2 separate regions of the Homo sapiens genome follow, and region 1 is linked to region 2. The links come from fine-mapping of genetic effects on gene expression. A gene starts in region 2. The other region holds a variant in brackets. All regions are shown on one strand. Distances are between the middles of the regions. Region 1 overlaps ISLR (immunoglobulin superfamily containing leucine rich repeat). Region 2 holds the start of ISLR2 (immunoglobulin superfamily containing leucine rich repeat 2).

The links.
Region 1: its variant is fine-mapped to the expression of ISLR2 in left ventricle (GTEx, PIP 0.90).

The regions. Positions count from the first base shown.
Region 1 is chr15:74,176,124-74,184,443 of GRCh38, forward strand. ISLR (immunoglobulin superfamily containing leucine rich repeat) reads left to right here. Exons shown (of 2, transcript NM_005545.4): 2 at 1-748. The coding sequence ends at 22. It overlaps STRA6 (signaling receptor and transporter of retinol STRA6), which reads right to left. Exons shown (of 19, transcript NM_022369.4): 14 at 7,733-7,866; 15 at 6,220-6,337; 16 at 6,038-6,139; 17 at 5,172-5,335; 18 at 4,659-4,814; 19 at 3,343-4,120. The coding sequence ends at 3,957. Among named protein-coding and RNA genes, the nearest start is that of ISLR, 6.6 kb to the left of the region's middle. RefSeq lists enhancers at 405-921, 2,829-2,998, 5,013-5,549, 8,054-8,320 and a silencer at 8,221-8,320. The variant G/A (reference allele first, on the strand shown) is at 4,252.
Region 2 is chr15:74,126,170-74,134,489 of GRCh38, forward strand. ISLR2 (immunoglobulin superfamily containing leucine rich repeat 2) reads left to right here and starts at 4,417. Exons shown (of 3, transcript NM_020851.3): 1 at 4,417-4,452; 2 at 5,038-5,147; 3 at 6,578-8,320. The coding sequence starts at 6,586. It overlaps LOC283731 (a long non-coding RNA gene), which reads right to left and starts at 3,109. Exons shown (of 3, transcript NR_152622.1): 1 at 2,796-3,109; 2 at 1,847-2,455; 3 at 204-1,564. RefSeq lists enhancers at 3,723-4,632, 4,633-5,541 and a silencer at 5,034-5,233.

The DNA.
Region 1 (8,320 bases), 50 kb after region 2:
CTTCTTCCTCACCTCCTTCTAGCCCCACCCAGGGCTTCCCTAACTCCTCCCCTTGCCCCTACCAATGCCCCTTTAAGTGCTGCAGGGGTCTGGGGTTGGCAACTCCTGAGGCCTGCATGGGTGACTTCACATTTTCCTACCTCTCCTTCTAATCTCTTCTAGAGCACCTGCTATCCCCAACTTCTAGACCTGCTCCAAACTAGTGACTAGGATAGAATTTGATCCCCTAACTCACTGTCTGCGGTGCTCATTGCTGCTAACAGCATTGCCTGTGCTCTCCTCTCAGGGGCAGCATGCTAACGGGGCGACGTCCTAATCCAACTGGGAGAAGCCTCAGTGGTGGAATTCCAGGCACTGTGACTGTCAAGCTGGCAAGGGCCAGGATTGGGGGAATGGAGCTGGGGCTTAGCTGGGAGGTGGTCTGAAGCAGACAGGGAATGGGAGAGGAGGATGGGAAGTAGACAGTGGCTGGTATGGCTCTGAGGCTCCCTGGGGCCTGCTCAAGCTCCTCCTGCTCCTTGCTGTTTTCTGATGATTTGGGGGCTTGGGAGTCCCTTTGTCCTCATCTGAGACTGAAATGTGGGGATCCAGGATGGCCTTCCTTCCTCTTACCCTTCCTCCCTCAGCCTGCAACCTCTATCCTGGAACCTGTCCTCCCTTTCTCCCCAACTATGCATCTGTTGTCTGCTCCTCTGCAAAGGCCAGCCAGCTTGGGAGCAGCAGAGAAATAAACAGCATTTCTGATGCCCCTCCGTGTCTGCCTGGAATTTTGTCTGGATCTAGGAGCCTCTGCTGGGAGATAGGATCAGGAGCTGAAGAGTCAGGGCAGCCAGCCTGCCTGCCCACAGTGGCAGGGGCCTCTGAGACTCCAACAGACTGTGGAGGCACAGGAGTGCTGGCCCGATGCTGTGTCAGGGGCTGGGCCTTGCGGTGAGCTGAGCTGCAGATGTTCCCTTCCTCCAAACCATCCCACAGGACAGCTGGGGGCAGGAGCCTGGGGTGGCTGGCGACCCTGAGCAGCGCCTGATGTCAGCAGTGGCTTCAAGAGAGGCATTTTGGAAAGGCGCAAGGAAATGGAAGTGCCTGGGTGGTAGCTCCTCTTCCCTGTCCTGCTCCTGGAAGAGATGTTAGGAATGAAGAGGAAAGAGGGGACAGGTGGGGCAAGATGGAGGAGACAGATGAGGAGAAGGGGACACAGGACAGAGGAGGAGAAAGCCCCAGAGAGACTGGGAATAAGAGAACATATTTACATATTTGAGGGAGAAACCAGGGGGGAAACAAATCGTACTTATCTTTCTCCCAAAGAAGAAATGGTATTCCAAGAGGAAAGTCCAAATGAGGACTGCAGATTCCCTGTAGGAATCTTTCCCCACAGAGCAAGTGGATCAGTAACTGGCCTGGGCCGTGTGTGTGTGTGTGTGTGTGTGTGTGTGTGTGTGTGTACAGCAACCTGAGCGGTGCGTGTGTGTGTGTGTACAGCAACCTTCAGCCTCTCCAGTGCATGTGTGTGTGTGTGTGTACAGCAACCTTCAGCCTCTCCAGATGAGGAGCATAAGGATGAGGTCCTAACCTGGAGACTCTGCACAACCTCCTATCTGTGCCAGGTAGGATATATGTCTTCCTACTGCCTCTATCCCATCCCTTTCAAGATCGAGGATGCTGCATGCAGAGACAATGGCCTGGGGGAGAGGCTCTGTGGCCTTTCTCCAGAGCTCCCAGAACTGCTGAGCTCAGCAAAGTGGAGGCAGGATGCTAAGGAGTCTGGGGTAGCAGCTGTGAGCCTTGGCTGCTGGCCAGCCCCATTCCCTCCCTCCAGGTCCACATACAGCACCTCCCCCTGCCCACTCTCCCCTCATCAACTTGCAGCTCCTGCTGAGCTGATGTCACCAGCAGCATGTATCAAGAATGACTCCTAATCTAAAATAAAAGTTGAAAAAAATGACTCACGTCTGGTGGAAAACAGCAGGATGGAGCCAAATTCCATGCGCTAGGCCACCTTGGGTAAGTCATTGCCCACGTCTGGGCTTCAGTTGCCTCAAAAACCAAATGACATGGTAGGACTAGGTGCTACTTCATGGTCCAATAGACTCTGATTGCCTAAGGCTTGATATTCCCAGCCTGACTTGGACATCCCTGGCTCCATTCCTAGCTGAGTGGCTTGGCTTCTTGGAGTAGGACATGGACCTAAGACCTAACACAGGGAATGGCTGTGCCTTGAGTGGACTAGCTGCTCCCCTGCTTTAAGGTCTTCCGTGGTCCCCACTGCCCTCCAGGTAAAGCCTGAATTCCCCACTTAGAGCCTCTCTGACCTGCTCCTCCAACAAGCGCACCCTTCCTTCCTCTTCTTGGAACAGCTATTTAATTGTTCCCTTAATGTTCCATGGTGTGCCATCCTCTGCACCTTTGCTTATACTGTTCCCTCCGCCCAGGCACCCTTTCCCTGTTCTTCATTTGGCTAAGTCAGTCTTTGAGAGTGGGCTCTGGCATCACCACCTCCAGAAAGCCTTCCTGGATGTTCCCCCATCCCCAATGTGAACAGGCCCCCTTTCTCTGGGAACCTGGATTCTCCTCCCCTGAGACCCTGTTAGTTGCTGAAACAAGGTCAGGAAGCCTTTTTCAACGGGCTGCAGTGGGATCACAGTGTGCCCTCTTTGGCCTCCTCGGGGCAGCCTTGAAAGTGGGTTTCAGGTCCCTGACCCCACCCCTGGCTTTACAGGTATTTGAGGCTGTAGCAGGAACCTGAGCTTGGGGCAGGGGACTGTTGATCTCCACTAACTGTGCAGGCATTTCTCAAGGCCCTGCTGACCTAGATCTGTAGGGTGGCCACATCTTCCTACCCTCTGTAGCCCCCAGCCCCTCAGTGGACCCAGGGCATGTTCTTTATTCATATACCCCGCCCTCCACCTCCACCAAGCCCCCAGTAGGGAAAAGACCCCAGTCTGTCTCCACCCTCCTTTCCCCTCCGTATTCTCATTCTCCTCCCATCAGGACAGCCTACGCTATGTCCCCCCATGTGACACGCCCCTTCCTACCTCCACACCTGGAGTCACACTGCTTCCCCAGCATTCCTGAAGTCGCTTCTCCTCCCCAGATCCTGCCCCTTCTTCAAGACCCAGAATAAGTCCCACTTCCAAAGCCAGCATTCACATGGCTCAGGGGTGGCATCATAGGGTCCCCAGTCTCTTTGCCACCCAAAAGGATGCAGCTATGGGTTCTGCCTTCCACCCAGTGTCTGGCCCAGCATGTGACCAGAACACCCCAAGCCCCATCCCCATCAATGCACAGTGTTCCTGACAGTGTAGGCGGGGTTTTCCCTGCATACCCCTCCCGCTATGAGGACAGTTTCTCAGGAACAAGTTTATTGCAGGGAACACACTAACCTCTTTCATAATAGCCAAAGGCATAAAAACTACAAAAATATCTGGCTCTCGAGTGTGGGCAGCTCAGTGTGGGACCTGGTCTGAGTCATGACTTGGGCTGCCCTGCAGGCCAGAGGCCCGGGAGCTTTCCGGCCACTCCCCAGAGAGGTCCGTGGCGCTGAGGGGGTGAGGAAGTGCCTTGGCTGCTTCCACAGCGTGAAGGCCAAGGCTGAGGTGGAGCTGGGCTGGAGTGGTTCCAGAGAAGGCTTCATCGAGGCCCTTCAAGGCTGATGGCAGAGCCAGGGTAGGGAGACGCCTGGATGTGGCTGCCCTGGCTCAACTGGCTCCTGGACCAAGGCCCTAACCCACCAGTTTCTTTCTCCAGAACCCCTGCTGGCTCTCCCATAGCCAAGTGGGTGGAGCAGAGCCCTCCTGAGGCTCCCAGTGCAGACAGACCTCCACCCAACCACAGTGATCCGGAGGACCTGCTGGCTGCATGGCTGGTGTGATGCTGGGAGGAGAGCCGGGGAGGGAGGAGGATGGTAGGCAGGAACATGCCTCAGCACAGATGGGCAGGTGGGTTGACCTTCCCTGCCCTCAGGGCTGGGCACCATTGGCACCCAACAGGGCCGTCTTGCGGAAGACCTGCAGGGTTGGGTTGTGCAGCAGCGTGTAGGCCAGACCCCAGCGAGCCCTGCCGCGGCTGGCCCCGGGCCTAGCTCCCTTGGCCATGGAGTCCTTTGTCTGTAGCAGCTGCATCCCTGAGAGAGACGGACTTTCTGTGAGTCACTCAGCAAACACCCAGCCAACCCTCCCTGGCCCTCAGACCTGATCAGAGAGCCTGAAAATCCCAGGCGTGTGCAGGTCGTGAGGCTTAGGATGTCCCCTGCAG[G/A]CAGCACATGGAAGTGGGGGGTGAGGTCTGTGGATGGACTGGAAGCTGGGTGGGACAAGGGTCTGGAGCTGGCTTAGTGTCCCCTCCCTACACACACTTCTGGGCAGAAGGAAAGGAGGAGTCATACTCCCTGCCCCAAGGGAGAAGCGGGGGCAGTGACGGAGCCCCTTAGGAAGGCAGCTGTTTCATTCTCTCTGTGTGCACACATATGGTGTGTGTATGTGTGTGTTCATATCATGGAAAAAATCACCCTGAGATCAGACCAGGAGGGGTGACCAAAGGCAGCCAAGGAAGAGAGGAAGTGAGAATTTTCCTGGCGCTCACTCTGTGTGCTGGGGAGGGGCACACATCCTTCCTAGAAGAAGCTGGGTAGGCTCTATTCCCCCATTCCCAGTGGGAGGGCGCACCTTCGTCTTCCTCCCCTGGTCTGAGGCTGTCCTGGGGGGCTGCCATGGTCCTGGGTAGGAGGCTCTGCGCTTGCAGGAGCAGGGAGCAGAAGGCTGTCATGGCTGGATGCGACTGGCTGACTTCAATCTTCAAGAAGTTTCGGTACGTGTAGTAGCCTGGGGTGGGGTGGCGGATGGCAATGCTGGGGGAGCAGGGGCCACACTGGAGGCATCCAGACATCCCCTAACACACACACAGGGAGTGCACGTGCACTCCCTGCATCCAAGCATGTCGACACACCAAGCACGTGGCACATTGGCTGCATGGGCACGTGTGGACCTGCTAGAACACCCCACATCCACTGCACGTGCTGCAGGGCCACAGGAGGCACAGCGCAGGGGCACACAGGTGGCACATGCAGCTACAGGCATCGGTGTGAACTGATCAGCTGGCACGGCCCTGGGGCAGGGCAGATGCCTTCCTCACTGCTTGGGTAGCCTGAGCAATCCTCCAGCCCCGCCCAGTGACCTTACCGGGGTCGAGAGTGGCGGCTCTCGGTGGCAGCAGGCTGAGGTCCATCTGGCCAAGGTGGATGGCGTTGTAGAGGGCAGAGAGGAGCACTCGCCAGGTGGCCACCATGGCACCCACCAGCACATTGAGGGGGAAGAGAAGAAAGGTGGCTGCATAGAGCACTCGCCTAGGATGGGAGAAGAAAGCTGAGGCAGGCCGTTCCCCAGAGCTCCCTCCCCAGGGTCAGTGTCAGACCTGGATGCCCAGAACTGCTGTGTATTTACTGAGTGCCTACCATTTATTGCTATGTCTTCTGTGCACCCCACCCTGGGCAAGGCCTTCTCTCTTTCAACCCACCATGCTGGGAGATGGGAAACTGAGGCCCAGAGAGATTGGGAGACTTAGCCAAGGCTGTCAGCTATTCAGTGGCAGAGCTGGGCTTTAACTCTAGGTCCATCTGAGTCTTTCTATGACCCTGATGCCTCCCACCTCCCTTTTCTGGGTCCCCTGTCTGCTAATTCCAAGTTCCCCTGGGAGCCAAGGTTCTCCCACAGACTTGTCATCTGACAGGGAACTCCCTTGCTACAAAGTGGGGAGGGGCATGGTTTTAAGGAAACAGAGGATCCAGGGGAGAGCAGTACCGATTCCCAAAGCAAGAAAGGTTCACGGGGGTACTTCCAGCCCCATGCCGGGTATGTAGAGAGGTACTTTGGAGTGGGCTGAGCCATTGTCCCTTTTCTCTATGGGTAAGGCAAGCTCTTTCTACTATCATCTGGGTTCCTTGATAGAGAGAAGGGATAGATGGCAGTGGAGGGAGGACACAAAAAGAGAGAGACACCGAAGAAGAGGCGAGGGCCTGAGGGAGCCACAAGCCCAGATGCCACCTCACCGGTTGGTCAGCTGTGGGTGTCCATCATGAGTCTCCAGGAAGACCCAATGGGCTGCCATGTTCTGCAGGATCACAGCCAGGGCCAAAGTCAGCCAGAAGGGCCTGCCAGTGGGGTGGGGAGGTGGTCGCTGTTAGCGGACCTCTAAGGAGTCCCTGAGCCCTCCATGTCTTGTTTCACTCACCACGAGGACTCCAGGGAACGGAAGAGCAGGAGGTTCCTGCCATGGAGCACAGGCATGAGCACCAGGAAGGCCAGGGCCGTGGTTCCCAGGAAGAAGATGATCTGCTGCACCAGGAGCCCTGCCAGGGGCGGGAGTGGCAGGGGGACAGAAAACAGGTTCCATGAAAACTGGCCATCCCCGCTGCCCCCAGAACCAAGGGCTTTGGGATTGGGCAGGCCTGGTTTTAGATCTCTGCTCTGCCACTGCCTAGCTATGCTGCCTTGAACAAATCACTTTACTTCATTGAGCCTCAGTTTCTTCCTCTGTAAAATGGGGATAATAGTCCCTACCTCAGAGGCTGTTGTAAGGATCCAATGAGATAATGTCTGTGGAAACTCTTAAAATCACAAAATACTTTGCAAATGTTATTTCCCTCCAGTTTCTCCTGAGTTTGAGTTACTGGGGGATAAGGCTACATATTAAACTGATGTTTGCATTCCTTCAAGCCAGAGCCTGGCATACGGTAGGTGCCCAAGGACTGTCTATTGAAATAATCTGGCCAACTGATTAGAGAATGATGTCTACAAAAGGGCCTGGAGGCATAAGGGCTACCAAGAAGAGACGCTATGACTTTTGTCCTAGTAATTCATCTACTCCTTTACCATCCTTCTCCTCCCGCAAGGAGGTGAGAATGGAAGGAACTGGAGGGAGAGATACAAGGCCCTTGGATGTGCAACCCAGGCCACAGCCCCTCACCATTCAGAGTGCTTTTCTCACTGCAGTACCCAAGGGGAGAGTCAGAAACTTGGGGCTGGTAGGGGTCCTGGAAGGTTATCTGGTCCAACTCTCTCAGGGCAGGACCCCCTTTGCAGACTGCAACAATATCCATGGAACTCTGCTTGCATACCCCCAGTGACAGGGATCTCATTACCTTTGTAGGTAGCCAAATGTGACACAGCCCTTTCTTAAGCTGGAGCGCAGTGGTGCAATCTCGGCTCACTGCAACCTCCACCTCCTGGGTTCAAGCGATTCTCCTGCCTCATCCTCCCGAATAGCTGGAACTGCAGGTGCACACCACCATACCCGGCTAATTTTTGTATTTTTAGTAGAGACGGGGTCTCACCATGTTGGCCAGGCTGGTCTTCATCTCCTGACTTCGTGATCCACCTGCCTCAGCCTCCCAAAGTGCTGGGATTACAGGTGTGAGCCACTGAGCCCAGCCAGGAATGTACCATTTTGAATTTGACACCTCCAGACCTGGGTCCACCCCCATGTGAATACTTGGTGGCACCCAGGGTTCATCTCCATGTGGAGGGTACACACTCAATTTCCCGAGGGCTCCTGTACCCCCATCCTGAATAAGCTTCTTAAGGGCAGGGAAGGCAGGGGGGTCCCTCCTTCTTGCTGCTGCCCCAGAGCATTCCCAGACAAACTCTGAGGGCAGTACTTGCTGAGCACTCTTCTCCCCAACTGAGGCCAGTGTCTGAGGGGAGGCCCAGGCCAAGGCTGGGTGTGGCGGGCAAGGGAGGCTCACCAAGGCAGATAAAGGCTGTCTGGTAGGCACTGAAGCTCATCCAACAGAATATGGCTTGGCGGGAGGGATGGGGACTCCGATGCAAGGGACTCAAGTCCAGGGCAGCTCCTCGGTGCAGAGCTCGAAGGTTGGTCCTGGGGTGGGAGCCAGGGAGGCAGAGACCTCAGGGAGCAACACACTCTTCCTAAATCCTCCTCTGGGCCAGCAACTGGCCAAACTCCCAATAGAATTTCAACTCACAGCCATCAGCAGGGAAGCCCAGAACTGTGGGAGCCAGGAGGAGGCCACTAACCCAAGATATCTGGAAGAGGTGATATCTGGGTAGTCTTAAACAGTGAACGAGGAATACAAAACGAGGCAGAAGGCTCAACCTGAGCCAAGTCAGAAAAGTGAGAAACAACAGTGAGAATGGAAGTGACACACAGCACAGCCAACAGGTAAAGAGGCAAGGCAAGCACAGGCTGAGGAGCCTTGAATGCCAGAAGAAGGAGGGGTGACCTGTGGAAAAAGATCCCTGGGAAGAGCTCTGAGACCTGGCAAGTGCGCAGGAGACATGGGCCAGTTCTCTGACATGGGTAAGTGCTCGGG
Region 2 (8,320 bases):
GGTGTGTGCAGCAGAACCTTTTATCAAACTTGTGTCCCACTCTGCAAGGCAATAATAATGGCTAATTCAGCTATTATATAAAAAACGTATCTCAAGTACTGAGCACTAAGTGTCAGGTACTAAGTGCTTTGCGTACATTGATTCATTTAATCCTCAAGGTGACCGAAAAGCATAGGTATTTTTTTTTTTTTTTTTTTTTTTTTGAGACAGAGTCTCGCTCTGTCGCCCAGGCCGGAATGCAGTGGCACTATCTCGGCTCACTGCAACCTCTGCCTCCCGAGATTCTCCTGCCTCAGCCTCCTGAGTAGCTGGGATTACAGGCATGCACCACCACGCCCGGCTAATTTTTGTATTTTTAGCAGAGACGAGGTTTCACCATGTTGGTCAGGCTGGTCTCGAACTCCTGACCTTGTGATCCGCCCGCCTGGGCCTCCCAAAGTGCTGGGATTATTACAGGTGTGAGCCACCGCGCCTGGTCAGTACTCTTATTTATGCCTTTTTTTCTTGAGGCACAGAGAGGTTAAATAGCTTGGCTAAGGACACACAGTCAGTACATAATGGAGTCTGACGCTAGGACCTGCCCGCCTGACGACTACATAGAACCTGTACAAGGAAAGGCCGGAGGAGGGAGTATAAACAGGGCCTGGCTTCCCTGAGGAGTGATCTTTCGACTGGAAATTAGAAAAGGAAAGCAGCTTCTTGAGGGTGTGGGGCTGGAGAGAACATTTGTGTGTGTGTGTGTGTGTGTGTGTGTGTGTGTGTGTGTGTGTGTGTGTGTGTGTGTCTGTGCGCGCAGAAGCTGAAAGATGGGAAGTAGTGAGTGTTCAGGGGCTTCTGACTGGAGGGCAGCCTTGGGGAAGGTCTCCGCAGCCTTAACCGGCTGCTATGCTGGGGATGTTTGATGCCCATCTGGGCCCCGGCTTTCTTATTCTCAGAGGCCCTTCCCACATCTTTAGGCAAGTCCATTAAATCCTCCGCGTGCCACATTAAAATACAAGGGCAAGTACAACTCTGAGTGCAGTTGCAACAGAATCGTTTGCACAATGTCGCATGTCTTAAACATTCAATCAAACATCGATTACTTCCAATTTTGCAGTTTTCTTTGCCCCTGTTAGCGCCAACAGATTTTTTTTTCCAGATCTCAGACATTTATTTTAATAGGCCCCTGACAAAGTCATAAGACTCAGAGAGAAGGGAGAGTGGGAGAGGTGTATAGGAAGGTTTTGTGCCAGGGACTAGTCGCTCAAGAATTAGGAGACGCCCTGGGCACTGGAAACTACGCAGCGCGAAGTAGGGACAGCGCCTGTGTTGTGTAGTGGACCAGAGGTTGCTGATACCTGGGACATAGACTGGGTGGGCACGGGAAGTAAAGCCTCGGGACTTTGGTTAAGCGCGCCCCACTGGCGTATCGCGCCGCGGGACTGCAGAGCCGTGAGCAGCGGTCGCCTTGGTGCAGGGTTCCAGCCACATCTTCCTCGCCCAGCCAGCACCCTCTGCCGTTGACCCGCCTCTGCGCCCGGCAAGCGGCTTCCAGCAGGGGGCGCGCGCGGACCAGGCTTGGGCCCTAGAACAGCGCGGATGGAGTCGCTGGAGCAAGTCCCCAGATCCAACCGGTTTCAACCCTCCCCACCCTCCCGACGCTCCGGGTTCGCGACGTTGAAGTTAAGGGTCGATCCGCAGAAAGCGGCCAGGGGCTCCAGCTCTCCATTCCTGGGTCTGTCTGGGGTCGGCTCCAGCCTGGTTAGAAGCCTTAGTCTGGATTCGGCAGATTCTGAATCTGGGACCCTCTGCGCTAGCGGCTTGGAACCTTGTCACCCTCCCCTCCCCCACCCCTACTTCCACACACCTGATTAGTTGTCTGTTTCTTTAATGATCAAAGACGTGGGCGGCGGCGGGATGAGGTCTTGGTTCCCGGCTCCACAGCCCTCCCTAACTGTCATTATTAACGTTATAAACATTAGACCCGCTTCTGCGCGCCGGACGGCGCCGGACGAGGTGCGCGCAGTCTTCTAGCTGAGCTCGGAGGCAGATCCAGAAGTCGCGGCTCCCACCCCAGGCCTCGGCGGACTCTGCCTGGGGCGACTCGGGCTCCAGCCCTGCCCGGGCGGGCACTGGGCTCTCCAGGGTCGAAGGCAGGGGTAAGGGGCGTCTTTCCCCCAGGGCAGCCTCCGGGAACAAAAGCATTTGCTGTAGAGTGAGCTAGAGCCTCCGGGCCCGCGGGAGTCAGCTCCCGCCCAGGGGTGGTCACCGCGTCCTTAACCACCCCAGGAGCCCCGTCTCCCTGCCGAACTCCTTGGCTTCTGCAACCCTGTCAAGACAGCAAGGAAAGGGGGTCTTCCCTGGTCCTCGGGCCCCGAAGTTTCGGGGTTGCTTATAGGACGGGTTCCTGCAGTCCAGGGAAGCTCTGGGCAGATAGCGAGCCCATTCTCCCTTCCATTACCCAGATTCTGCCTCCCTGCGGAAGGCAAAAAAGAAAGAAAGAAAATAGGTAAAAACCGGCGGAGGGCCTTGAGCCTCCCCGCCTGGCGCCCCTCACTCAGTCCCGAAAAGTCCCCTGGACACGCCATGCCGGACCGGACTCAGCTCCCGCTGCTGGGCCCCTGCCTCCAAATATCCTTCCCAGGCACAGGCTCCCAAGACCGCCCCCTCAGGGTTCCCAACACCCGGACAACTGCCCAAGACGCCGCTCCCCGCCCCCACCCCCACCTTGTTCGGCAGACAAAGAAGGGTGTGCTGGCCCCGCCGTCTGCCTCCTTCTCCCGACCCCACAAGGCCTAGAAACCTCAGGGACTCACCCCGGGCTAGGGACCCAATCCTGGCTGTCCCACCACAGGATCCCCGGCAGGGACGGGTCACAGTGCTCTCACCCCTCGACCATTTTCGAAGACACCTTCCCTGAAAGGCGCCTTGCGCCCTCCCCATGGGTCGGCGGGGGGGGACTCCAGGCCCGAGCAGGCGGTGTGAAGTTCTGTGTTCTGAACTGGGGCTGAGCAAGATGCGATGGTCTCAGCCCGCTGGGCCGCCCGTAGCGACGGCAGGAGTAGGGGAGAGGGAGGGACGCTTGGAGTGTGAGCGCACCAGTCTGTTCATATTTAATTTACAAAGCAGCCTCGGAACCCCGGGCCGGGTGGTCTCTTTAGACGCTGCGCTCTTAGCCTGTCTCTCTTCCCCACCCCCTCCCCTAGCTCATTAAGATGCTCAACACTCAAATCGGGGTATTGATCTCCACGGAAGCCCCAAACCCTCGCCATCGAGAGACCCCCATGGCCCGGGGTGATGGCTGTGGGGCTTGGTGCTCCCAGAGAGCTCAGTGGCTACAGAATGGGTGGGGATTCTGCGTGTCTCCCGGAGCCTGAACCCCTTTCCTGGTTATGGCCGGTAGCTGTCTCCAGGGCTAACGTGGGCAGCGCAGGGGGGCGGAAACCGGGTTTTAGCCAAATGCCTCGACATCGCCGCGCCTCCGCCTCCTCGTCGCTGAAAGAAATGTCGGGGTTTCATCAGAGCTAGGGAGCGACAGTCGGGAACAGCGAGTCTGCCGAAGCCGGCTGTTGTGTGAGGGTGTGAGACGGCGGGGCGGTGAGGGGCCACCGCGGCTTGGGGGATAGTGCGTGTGGGGTTGACCGTGTGTCTGCTTGAGAGGCTGTGAAGATATGGGGGGCAGATATGGGAGAAATGCTCGGGCCTGAAGTCCCCAGCCCACCGTGCTCAAGAGTAGCGGACGTTTTGCCACCATCCTTGTCTGTGCTACTGTCTGCTGCAGCTTCCGTGCCCCGTTCTCCTGGAGCAGGCAAGACCTGGAGTGAGGTGCTTGGGTGCGCTCGAGAGAGCTTCCCCCTGCTCCACCTGTCCCGCGGTGCGCGCAGGCCAACGCGTCGGGCAGTGGGCTTCAAGCGCTGGTTTAGCCACAAAAGACCAGAAGTAAAGAGTTCCGGCTTAAGAGGCTGGGCAGGGCTGCGGTGGGCTGGGGAGGGGGGTGTCCCTTCCCAGCACGCCCTGCAGGGCTGTGCGTTCTGGTGTCGGGTTAGACTAGCAGGCGGGGCGGGGGGGTTGGGGCGGCGGGGCGGGGGAGACTAGGGCTTATATCAGCCCAGATCCAGGCAAAAATGGTAGGGAGGGTGCGGCGCTCTGCTAACACTATCAATTATGCATCATGTTGAACGTGGCTTCGGGGAGGAGGCGGCTAGCAGCGGGGGGTGCGGGAGGGAAGGGTCCGCGCGAGCTCGGCTGCGCGCAGCTCAGCGGGTCCCGCTCGAAGTCTGTCGGTGCCACCGCCTGCATTTGCAAAAAGAGTTTAAAGGCAAAGACACGCCTTCCCCCCCCACTTCAGCCGCGCGCCTTTCCTTCCCCCAAATTCCTCAAAGATGGTTTGTCTCACGTGTTGCAGGGCGTAAAAGCGGCTTGCATTCAATTAGCAGCGAAGCTCGCGGGCGCTGGCGGGACAGGCGCGTGAGGGTGAGTTCGCGTGAATGTGTGTATGCGTGTGCGAGAGGAGAACGGTAAGTGTCCCGGGTGCAGGTGTGCCCGTGAAAATGCGTGTGAATGTAGCAGGGGCTGAACACATTGATGCGATTATTACCTGACCATGGATGATTGTAAACTGTGAAGGTCGGCTATGGGGAGGGTGTGAGGGACTGTGTGCGCGAATGTGTTTGAACGTGGGGTGGGGGAGGTGGTGTGATCAGGGACAGTAACAATGCCAGCGGCTGTGTAAATGTGGGGGTACGTGGGTTATGGGGGTGCAGTAGGCTGCGAAGAGCCCAGCCAGGACAGTGGGCGTGGGATGCCCCTTATGACCGACGTGTCTTGGCCTTGGGGAGGGTCTCCGTGGCTTTAACAAAAGTAGACCAAGCAGGAGGCGGGAGAGGCTATGCGCGTCCCCGCCAGGCCCGGGAGTGCGCAAGGACTTTCTCCAACCTGCAGCCAGAGAGGTGGGGGAAACGGACGCAAAAGGAAAAATTGAAGTGGTACTTTGGGGCCACCAAGTCCCCAAACTTACCTGTCCCTTTCTTTGCCCCCCGCCCCCCGTTTTCCCCACAGCCACAACACATGCGTGTATCTTGCTTGGGCTATCTTCCCTGCTCTGCCACGCCGGGTCTGGAGAAGGGGTTTCAGCCCCAGGACATTTACTGAGAGTCGGCGAATATTGGGTAAGCAATGGGGGCCACCCCACAACCTTGACCCAGGTGGGGTTAGGTCCAGCCTAGGGCACCTGATGGGGTGCGGGGCTGGTGGGGGTGCTGTCTGGCAGGAACCGGGAAGGGAGGGAAGGGACCCTCCCAGAAGAGCAAAGGCAGAGTGAAGGAGCAGGTTCCCAAAGACAAGTTGTGGGAGGGGCTCTGCCAAACCTGACAGGCGCTCCAAATGGGGGCAGGGAGTCTGTGCAAGTTCGTTTGTGTGACCGGGCTTAAGGTGTTATGGGGAGGGGGTCCTTAGGCACCGCAGAGCTGTGGAGAAAGGCGCAGAATCTTTCATCTTCTCCAGCTTCATTAGCTAGTGGCAGCCCCATGACCTGTTGGCTGAGGACGCCTCTGCCCAATGGGAGCCGCCTGAGGGACCTGAGAGGAAGCTCTAGTGACCGCTTTCCCAACACACCTGGTCCAAACATGGGGGAGAACCTCCTTCCCCGTAAGGAAGGTTGGCAGAGCAGCCCTTCTTCTCCCCTCACAGGAGCTGCAGCCCCGGGCAGGTGACTTTGGCCTTAGATGCAGTAGGGCATGGGGATGGGCTTCCCCAGATCCCACATCTCAAGTCGTGCAGTGCAGGTCCTCCTATTGCTTCTCTGCTGGGTTTCGGTCACAGTGGAGGGCTGTATGCACACACAGGCACATGCCTGTGTTCTTGTGGGTGGGTCGGTTCGTGTGAGGACTTGTGTCCTTGTGTCTGTCAATTGTCACAATGGACAGGAAAGCGCTTTGTACCGTGGTGGAAAACACGTACAAATGCTGGTTAAGAGAACAATGAGGTCTGCAGGGTCTATTGTGTCCATGTCTGGGTGCATATGTGTTTGTGAGTTTAGGAAATGTGTTGTGAGCCTCCTAATTGAGCATCAGGTCCTCTAAACCCCTGCAGAAGTTGGCGGTTTGATTATGAAGCCCCGCGTCTGTTTGTATTGTTGTGTGCCTGCATGGGCGTGTGTGCGAGTGCTGTGCGTGGGACAAAGGTTCCAGGGAGGACAGCCAGTCACGGACAAAAATGTCCTTCTTGGGTAGGATCCATTTCACCAGGTTAAACGAAGGCTTAGAAACACAGAGAGGGGTACGTGAGGAGCCCGCTGGAGATGGGCGAGCTGCGGAGCCCACGGAGGGGCCAGCTCCAGCGTGAAGGAAGGAGTAGGAAGAGAAAAAAGGGCGATATACCGGGCCGCTGGAAAAGGAAATTAGGGCCCTGGGAGGGAGCATCCGTTGAACCTCGAGATTTTTATTGACCTTCACTTCAGAGAGGCTCCTGGCCATAGAGGAGGTTACCGGAGCCCTGGAACTAGTGCTAAACGGGCTTGCGGAGGCACAGCTTGATAGGGGAGGTAAGCTGGGGTTCAGTGAGTCACCTTCTTTCTTCTTCACCTGGCTTCCATCTGCAGGAGCCGCGATGTTCCCCCTTCGGGCCCTGTGGTTGGTCTGGGCGCTTCTAGGAGTGGCCGGATCATGCCCGGAGCCGTGCGCCTGCGTGGACAAGTACGCTCACCAGTTCGCGGACTGCGCTTACAAAGAGTTGCGTGAGGTGCCGGAAGGACTGCCTGCCAACGTGACGACGCTTAGTCTGTCCGCGAACAAGATCACTGTGCTGCGGCGCGGGGCCTTCGCCGACGTCACACAGGTCACGTCGCTGTGGCTGGCGCACAATGAGGTGCGCACCGTGGAGCCAGGCGCACTGGCCGTGCTGAGTCAGCTCAAGAACCTCGATCTGAGCCACAACTTCATATCCAGCTTTCCGTGGAGCGACCTGCGCAACCTGAGCGCGCTGCAGCTGCTCAAAATGAACCACAACCGCCTGGGCTCTCTGCCCCGGGACGCACTCGGTGCGCTACCCGACCTGCGTTCCCTGCGCATCAACAACAACCGGCTGCGTACGCTGGCGCCTGGCACCTTCGACGCGCTTAGCGCGCTGTCACACTTGCAACTCTATCACAATCCCTTCCACTGCGGCTGCGGCCTTGTGTGGCTGCAGGCCTGGGCCGCGAGCACCCGGGTGTCCTTACCCGAGCCCGACTCCATTGCTTGTGCCTCGCCTCCCGCGCTGCAGGGGGTGCCGGTGTACCGCCTGCCCGCCCTGCCCTGTGCACCGCCCAGCGTGCATCTGAGTGCCGAGCCACCGCTTGAAGCACCCGGCACCCCACTGCGCGCAGGACTGGCGTTCGTGTTACACTGCATCGCCGACGGCCACCCTACGCCTCGCCTGCAATGGCAACTTCAGATCCCCGGTGGCACCGTAGTCTTAGAGCCACCGGTTCTGAGCGGGGAGGACGACGGGGTTGGGGCGGAGGAAGGAGAGGGAGAAGGAGATGGGGATTTGCTGACGCAGACCCAAGCCCAAACGCCGACTCCAGCACCCGCTTGGCCGGCGCCCCCAGCCACACCGCGCTTCCTGGCCCTCGCAAATGGCTCCCTGTTGGTGCCCCTCCTGAGTGCCAAGGAGGCGGGCGTCTACACTTGCCGTGCACACAATGAGCTGGGCGCCAACTCTACGTCAATACGCGTGGCGGTGGCAGCAACCGGGCCCCCAAAACACGCGCCTGGCGCCGGGGGAGAACCCGACGGACAGGCCCCGACCTCTGAGCGCAAGTCCACAGCCAAGGGCCGGGGCAACAGCGTCCTGCCTTCCAAACCCGAGGGCAAAATCAAAGGCCAAGGCCTGGCCAAGGTCAGCATTCTCGGGGAGACCGAGACGGAGCCGGAGGAGGACACAAGTGAGGGAGAGGAGGCCGAAGACCAGATCCTCGCGGACCCGGCGGAGGAGCAGCGCTGTGGCAACGGGGACCCCTCTCGGTACGTTTCTAACCACGCGTTCAACCAGAGCGCAGAGCTCAAGCCGCACGTCTTCGAGCTGGGCGTCATCGCGCTGGATGTGGCGGAGCGCGAGGCGCGGGTGCAGCTGACTCCGCTGGCTGCGCGCTGGGGCCCTGGGCCCGGCGGGGCTGGCGGAGCCCCGCGACCCGGGCGGCGACCCCTGCGCCTACTCTATCTGTGTCCAGCGGGGGGCGGCGCGGCAGTGCAGTGGTCCCGCGTAGAGGAAGGCGTCAACGCCTACTGGTTCCGCGGCCTGCGGCCGGGTACCAACTACTCCGTGTGCCTGGCGCTGGCGGGCGAAGCCTGCCACGTGCAAG